Homo sapiens: one gene and its partner. The protein of the gene in region 1 purifies or fractionates together with the protein of each later gene. This does not show direct contact. Each region holds a gene or a part of one and is shown in the gene's direction. Other genes may lie near its edges. The genes, in order: PIP5K1C and SNX4.

Evidence for each region.
Region 2: the proteins of PIP5K1C (region 1) and SNX4 purify together in Homo sapiens (affinity purification with mass spectrometry; one large-scale study listed by BioGRID and IntAct). This does not show direct contact.

What each region holds. Positions count from the first base shown.
Region 1 is NC_000019.10:3,697,654-3,702,030, reverse strand, and holds the start of PIP5K1C (phosphatidylinositol 4-phosphate 5-kinase type-1 gamma), read left to right. Parts: upstream 1-1,562; 5' UTR 1,563-1,640; coding exon 1,641-1,734; intron 1,735-4,377. UniProt on the Homo sapiens protein: Catalyzes the phosphorylation of phosphatidylinositol 4-phosphate (PtdIns(4)P/PI4P) to form phosphatidylinositol 4,5-bisphosphate (PtdIns(4,5)P2/PIP2), a lipid second messenger that regulates several cellular processes such as signal transduction, vesicle trafficking, actin cytoskeleton dynamics, cell adhesion, and cell motility.
Region 2 is NC_000003.12:125,496,190-125,500,001, reverse strand, and holds part of SNX4 (sorting nexin-4), read left to right. Parts: intron 1-1,807; coding exon 1,808-1,943; intron 1,944-2,018; coding exon 2,019-2,168; intron 2,169-2,613; coding exon 2,614-2,661; intron 2,662-3,812. UniProt on the Homo sapiens protein: Involved in the regulation of endocytosis and in several stages of intracellular trafficking. Plays a role in recycling endocytosed transferrin receptor and prevent its degradation.

The sequences.
Region 1 (4,377 bases):
TGCGTAGATCAATGTTAATAACATGTATTGTGTAGATCTATATATATATATATTTTTTTTTGATATGGAGTCTCGCTCTGTTGCCCAGGCTGGAGTGCAGTGACACGATCTCAGCTCACTGCAAGCTCTGCCTCCCAGGTTCACCCTATTCTCCTGCCTTAGCCTCCCAAGTAGCTGGGACTACAGGCGCCCGCCACCACGCCTGGCTAATTTTTTGTATTTTTAGTAGAGACGGGGTTTCACCATGTTAACCAGGATGGTCTCAATCTCCTGACCTCGTGATCCGCCCGCCTCGGCCTCCCAAAGTCTTGGGATTACAGGCATGAGCCACCGCGCCCGGCCCTGTGTAGATCAATATTATTTACATGTACTGTGTATATCACTGTTATTGGTATATTTTGTGCATATCAATGTTATTGACATGTAGTGTGTATATCAATGTTATTGACATGTAGTGTGTACATTAATGTTATTGGCATGTAGTGTGTATATCAATGTTATTGGCATGTAGTGTGTATATCCATGTTATTGGCATGTAGTGTGTATATCAATGTTATTGACATGTAGTGTGTGTATCAATGTTAGTTACATGTATTGTGTAGATCAATGTTATTGGTATTCATTGTGTATAGCAATGTGATTGGCATGTATTGCATATAGCAATGCTATTTGTATGTTTTATGTAGATCCATGTCAATGATATAGTATAGATTCATGTTATTGGCATGTATTGTGTATATCCATGTTATTGGCATGTATTGTGCATATCCGTGTTATTGGCATGTATTGTGTATATCCATGTTATTGGCATGCATTGGGTAACTCCATGTTATTGGCATGTGCTGTGTAGGTCCATGTGTGGTTTTTTTTGGGACAGAGTCTCACTCTGTGGCCCAGGCTGGAGGGCAATGGTGCGATCTCAGCTCACTGCAACCTCTCCCTCCTGGGTTCCAGCGATTCTCCTGCCTCAGCCTCCCGAGTAGCCGCGATTACAGGCATGTGCCACCACGCCCAGCTATTTTTTGTATTTTTAGTAGAGACAGGATTTCACCATGTTGGTCAGGATGGTCTTGAACTCCTGACCTCAGGTGATCCGCCCTCTTCGGCCTCCCAAAGTGCCGGGAATATAGGCGTGAGTCACCGCGCCCGGCCAGATCCATGTTATTGTCATGCGCTGTGCAGGTCCCTGTTATTGGCATGTGCTGTTTAGATCCATGTTATTGGCATGTGCTGTGTACATCCATATTATTGGCACGTGCTGTATAGATCCATATTATTGTCATGTGTTGTGTAGATCCATGTTATTGGTATGTGTTGTGCACAGCAATGTTATTGATACGTATCGTGCCTGTCAATCTTACTGACCTAATACGATGGAATGGCGAGCCTGGCTCTGTACTCCCACCCCTGGGCGCGAGGGGGCACTCGAGGCGCTCCTGGCTGCGGGTCGCAAGCAGGCCCCGCCCCCGAGCCCCGATTGGCCGCGCGCCGTCCGCGGCGTCGCACGCACGCAGGCCCCGCCCCGTCCGCCCCGCGCCGGCCCGGCGCGCCCTCCCTTGGCCGGCGGCGCTTGTTGTTCGGCGGCGGCGGTCGCAGCTCGGGTCCCCCTCGGGCGCCCCCGCCGCCGTCCGCGCGCGGCCATGGAGCTGGAGGTACCGGACGAGGCGGAGAGCGCTGAGGCGGGGGCCGTGCCCTCGGAGGCGGCGTGGGCGGCAGAGAGCGGGGCGGCGGCAGGTAACGGCCCGGCCTCCCGGGGCTGCGGCCCGCTGGGCTCGTCCGAGCGCCGAGAGTCGCGGGGCTGCGGGGCCGGGGCGGGGGCTGCACGGTCGCTGCGGGGGCGCCGCCGGTTCCAGGAGCCTGGGGCGGGGCAGTCCCCTGGAGCCGCGGGGAGGACGGGGCTGAAGCCGCGCCGGGAAGCGGGAGGCCTGCGAGGGGCTACCTCCCACCGCTCCCGGGCCGGGGGCGACTCGGCGTGGGCGCCGCTGGGGATCCCCGTTCTGCCTGACCCGCTCCCAGGGGCTGCCCGTCGTGTGAGTGGCGGCTGCTTGGGTGGAGGCGGGGGTCTCTGAGGCCGTGCGTGCCCACCTCCTGATGTCACCTCCCTTTCTGTAAGTCCCCAGACCTGAGTCCGGGTGCGCGACCTTTCCTCACCTTCCTGGGCCTCAGTTTACCTCCCTGCTAAAATGAGGGGAGGAAAAGGGTTACATCTCAAGATGCCTCCACCGCCCCGGCTGTGCACACAGGGTGCCCTGTCGCCCCCTTTTCCTCTCCCCGAGCCTTCCCCCAGGACACACTGGTGGGGCTGCGGGCTGGGCGGGGGGCACGGCTGTCTCATGCCCCCTTTAGCTGCTTCCTGGACCTCCAGCCGGGTAGGTGGCGGCAGCTGGGCCTTCCCTTCTGTGGGGACGGTGTGCAGAGCCCAGAGGAAGGGAACAGTTCCTTCTCAGTCGAGGTCACAAGCTCCCAAATCGGAAGTTTCCGGATTCACAAAATCCTCTGCTCCTCCCAGGCAGCCAGCAGCAGCGTCTCTGTAGACACCCACACGGGCATCCGTCCTCCTTCTCCCCCCAGGCCTCCCGAAGCTTCCTTGGTTGGCAGGCGGGCAAGCGGGCGGGCGGGCGATGCGTGCTGCCTGGGAGTTGGGGAGATGTCTGGAGAGAGAGAGAGTGTGGAAGTCATCAAGTCCCCCCCCCACCCCCCGCCTTGAAAGACACTCGTGGCTTCCCTCCCGGCGGCCATCTGGAACCGCTTGGTAGGTGACCCGGTTCCTTCCCCAGAGCCAGTGGCCTCGCCCCTTTCTTTGCGGGCAGCCGGTGTCCTGGCCTGGCCAGCAAGAGACATGGTGGAGGAACCCAGGCAGGGCACCAGGCCCCAGCCCGGGTTCCTTTCTTGGGCCCCCCAACTTCCGCTGTCAGCCCTCTGACCCCAGCTGGTCAGAGACAAAGTAGCCCAGGACTCGCTGACCAAAAGAAAACCACACCGCGACCATTCATCTTATCAGGGGCTCTGGGAGCACCGGGGACAGATAAAGTTGCCAGCTCCAGACTGAGCATGGTGGTGGGGTGGGAGAGCGGGGGAGTGGGGGGGTGGGGGTGGGGGGCCGGGGAGGGCTGGAAGGTCAGGGTCTGGCATCTCTGCCCATCCCTGAAATCCACAGAAATCTGACCCCAGCTGGCCATATACTGCTTCTGAATGTTTAAAATTCAGAGTTGCCTCACTCCTCCAACGCCATCCCTCCTGATGTTAGCGCTGGTGAGTTTAGGTTGTGCCTGGCTGGGCCACAGAGACGTGAGCACATAAAGGGGCCTGCTTGTTCTTCACCGAGATGGTTTCATGCCTCACTGGGGCTTCTGTGCCTTGGCAGAGGTATTTTGAGTCAGGAAATTAGGGGTGCTGAGCAACGCCCCTGGCTTCTGCCCACTCCATGCCAGGAGCACCTGCCAGTTGTGACAGCCACAAGTGACCCAGACACCGTTCAGTGTCCCCTGGGGGCAGGACGGCCCTGGTGAGAAATGCCACACGTTTATGACTCTGTGAACTGCTTGCTTTTTATCTCTGGTCATCTGGAGTCTCCCCACCCTATGTTGGTATCGGTTTGTAGAGAGGGCGAGCGCCAGGCAGTGGTTAAGGGGGAGCCCCAGAGTTGGTCCCGCCGATGTCCCCCTCCCAGCTCCGCGCTTCAGGTGCTGTGTGGCCGTCACTTCCCCGGGCTTCAGCGTCCCGTCTGTGAAGTGGGGTGATGACCGTGTGTGCTAGGGGCTGAGCCTGGGATGAGTTGGCGCTCGTGCTTGGTGATTGTCGTGCCGGTTGGCCACCCCTTTCCGGCCTCTCCACCATCGGTGCCTCCAGGCCCCTGCTGAGGCCCATGCCCGTGGTTTCTGGAGTCACCGCTCACTGTTAGAAGCGATGGCGACACCTTCCAGAAAGCTCAGCTACAGCGGGAGCCTTGTCCGACAGGGGCCGAGGGAGGCTGCCCGTTTCCCACGGCACTGCCAGCTCCCAGTGTCATCGTCCTTGGCGATTTCGGCTGATCCGATGGGAGGCAAAGCAATGTCTCGTTGGTGTTTAGAATTTGGTTCCTCTAATTGCCTGGGCTCCTGGCTCCCGAGGCGTGGCCTGAATGGCGTCTCCATGGGCCGTGGCCGTGGGGCACGTGGGGGCGGTCTCGGGAAGGCCGGGGCTTGGGATGCGGCTGTGCCCACTGTGTGGGCCGATGGCCTGTGGTGGAGTTTGGTCTGAGCTGTGGCCTGGGCGTGTCTGAGCCTCTCCCAGGCTGTCCTGTCTCTGTGATGCCCCAGAACGGTCAGCTCCATCCCTGCCCCTGCCCCACTCCCACGGCTGATCTGTCTCTGTGATGCCCTGGAAAGGTCAGCTGCA
Region 2 (3,812 bases), on another chromosome or scaffold:
TGCAACCTCTGCCTCCCGGGTTCAAGCAATTCTCCTGTCTCAGCCTCCTGGGTAGCTGGGATTACAGGCACCTGCCACCACGCCCAGATAATTTTTTGTATTTTTAGTAGAGACGGGGTTTCACCATGTTCGCCAGGCTGGTCTCAAACTCCTGATCCACCCACCTTGACCTCCCAAAGTGCTGGGATTACAGGCGTGAGCCACCGCATCCAACCGCGTTTTTTTTTTTTTTTTTTTTTAAACACTTATGCAGACCTTCTATCAGCCCTGTAGGTGTACTGCTTATAGGCTTTATTTATCCACTTATTTACAAGTTTTGGGTTTTGTTGGTAGTGATTTTGAATAATTTGAAACTTGAGATTAACCCAAGTATTTTTCAGCTGAAGTTGGGCATTGTAATTGGGATAGTATTAGTTATAACTAATGTCTAGGTATACTCTTTAAAATGAATTATGATTTAATAATTCTATTTTTTTGCCATGGGAGCCATTTGTGAATTTTGCATTTCATATTTTGGTTCATTTTTATTAATATGCAATGAATAAATTTAGTAGCAAACTTAAAAAATGATAAAAATGAGCATCTATTGTGCTGAGCATGGCATGATGTAAATACTTTCTCTAGACTATTTGGAGACTGATTTAAGTTCTGTGACTTTTTGTCCTAATGTACAAATACACCTTGTGCATTTCATGGAGGGCAAACAGGTTATTGTCAAGCAAATTAGAAAATAGCAAGGTCCTGATAATGTTTAGAAGACTGGTGCTTCCTAATAGGTCTTACTTATGCTGGCAAGAAATCCTAAGTAGTCAAAATATTTAAAATATCCTTTATATGATTTTACCTTAACTTTCTGCCAAAAGTAAATTGAACTTTTGTATGTATGAGACATGGCATTGCCTACCAGCCCTTTATAATTAAAAGTAAGACTGGAGATGAATTTTTATGACCCCTCTTCGCCACTCTTTCAGAGCTAACTAATATTTTGTTCTTTTGGATATTTCTTGGTACTTGGATTAATCTGATTTATTAATAACCTAAATTGAAGTTTTTGTGGTGTCTTGGTCTTTGTTGTGAATGTTATTCTCTCATTTTGGCAGAAGTGAAGTTAAAAATGCTTTTTATTTAATGAAACACTAGCTAAACTAGATTTTATCATATTATAAAATCAATTATTTATGCATTAAGGCTTTTAGAGTGTTCCTAATAAAACTGTTTCTCTTATGTTTAAACAGGCTTTCTGTAACAGAAAGAAAGTGGTTAGGAGTAAGGGCTTTGAAATCAGATGGATCTGAGTGCTTTATCCACAGACCTTTGTGATCATAGGCAGAGCATATACTGTGCAGCTGTGTCCTCATCTGTAAAATGAGGATAATAAATCTCTGCCTCACAGGGTTGTCATAAGGATTAAATATGAAAATACATGAGGCCAAGGCAGGAGGATGGCTTAAGCCCAGGAGTTTGACACCAGCCTGGGCAACATAGCTGGACCCCATCTTTACAAAAAATTAAAGTATTAGCCAATGTGGTGACATGTGCCTGTGGTCCCAGCTACTCAGGAGGCTGAGGTGGGAGGATTGCCTGAGCCCAGGAGGCGAAGGCTGCAGTAAGTGGTGATTGCACCACTGCACTCCAACCTGAGCGACAGTGGGACCCTGTCTTGAAAAAAAAGAAAAATGTATGAAAAGTTCTTTACTTAGTGCCTGGTTCATAATCATTCTGTAGTTATAATTTTAAAGGTGATTGTATTTATGTGTATGTATTTTTGTTTATAAAAAATAACAAGTGTTGTTCTGTTCCTTTTCAGGTCAGTTGAACATACCGATGGTCAGAGTGTCCTAACAGACTCACTATGGCGGCGATATAGTGAATTTGAGTTGTTGAGAAGCTACCTTTTAGTTTACTATCCACATATTGTTGTGCCACCTCTGCCAGAAAAACGGGTAAGAAGTGAAATGGCAGTAGTTTAGAAGTATTCAGCATTGAGACTATTCTTAATGATTATTTTGTTTACCTAGGCAGAATTTGTTTGGCATAAACTCTCTGCTGACAACATGGATCCAGATTTTGTGGAGAGGCGACGGATTGGTTTAGAAAACTTTCTCTTGAGGATTGCTTCACATCCCATCCTTTGTAGAGACAAAATCTTCTATCTGTTTTTAACACAGGTATTTTTCTTTTATTTAGTCTTAGTAAAATATTCATTTAATTTGGGTTTCTTAAAAAAATTGTAGAATACTTATTTTAAGGATCTTTTCATTAATTTATATGCAATTTATTTTTTGTTATGAATTTCTAATTAATGGATTATGTCATTCTTTTGGTTAACTTTTTCTATTTAAAGATACTGATGATGGTATTTTTGGTATCATTTAAATAATATTAAAATTTGTCTTCAGTATTTTGAAGCCCAGATCTATAAAATCTTGGGTTCACCTTTGGTAATCTTTTAGAAGTTGGATTGAATGTTTAATTTTGAAGTGAAAAGAAATTTTTTTAAACTTCTCTCTCCAATTCCTGCTGAAGTAAGAACAGAATGATAGAAATTTAATTTACTTAATTTGGAATATTTGCTTTGCAATAATGATTTCTAAAATTAACTTCAATTTTTAGGAAGGTAACTGGAAGGAGACTGTGAATGAAACTGGGTTTCAGCTGAAGGTAAGAATATTTATATGAAATTTGCCATGTTCCTTTACAGTTCCCAGCATGGTGCCATGCACTCATTGGGAACTTGGTATTTATTGAATAAATGAATGTTGGAAATCGTCTTACAATAAATATCATTGGTAAGGTTTTCAAAGAAACACTACAATTCACTTTTGATTTGTGTAATTTTAGTTACTTATGAGACTATAATGGGCAAATTTATTCTACAGGGAAAGAACATTTTGTAACAGTGAATTTTTTTTTTTTTTTTTTAGTTAGTGTTTATAGTAATGAAGCAGTAATTTAAATACAAGTTGTAGATTTTCCCCAGTGTACTAGTATTATACCTTGCCTCTTTTTTTCTTCTGTCCTGTTTCCATTCGTATCCCTGCCCCCGACAGTTGCTCACTCTATCACATATGAAAGAGTCCAACCTTAGCAGTCTAAAAGATAAGCCCTTAGTCATGCTTCTTCTGTCTGTTGAGACATGGTGGTCAGTTTGAAATGGGGACAAAGGAGTCATTTTTAAATAGTTCTAAGTTTTATCTGTTAGTGGTACAGGATTATTTAGTTTTTGTAACAGCTTTTTAAATTTAGTCATTAGAATTAGTGTTTGGGAATGAGATGATGATCTGAAAATCAAGGAGCATTAGTAGTGGTAAGCTGGACACTTGAGTTCTATGCTGCTGTTTATTTCTTCCCTAAAAGAAATACAACAAAGGTTATTACAAACTTTTTAAAGTTTTCATCTCTGGTGTAAACTGAATAGGTAAGTAGACTAACAGAATATAAATTGATATATAACATAATATAAATTGTTCAATGACTCACATGATAATACAGTACCAAAAGTTCAATATAATATGTCTAGACAAGAAGAAGAAAATTTTTTTACAGTAATTTAAAAAACACTTCCCATGCATTGGCCCATAGATATTTGAAATTTGGCACAAAACAGACTAGAAGGAGGAAAATTTTTTTCTGCAGAGAAAATATGATAAACCAGTTCTGTCATAAACTGATTCTAATTTATAAATATTTTGGAGTTTTTATGATTTTGAGACAGAGTCTTGCTCTGTCACCCAGGCCAGAGTGCAGTGGTGTGATCATGGCTCACTGCAGCCTTGAACTCCTGGACTCAAGCGATCCGCCTGCCTCAGCCT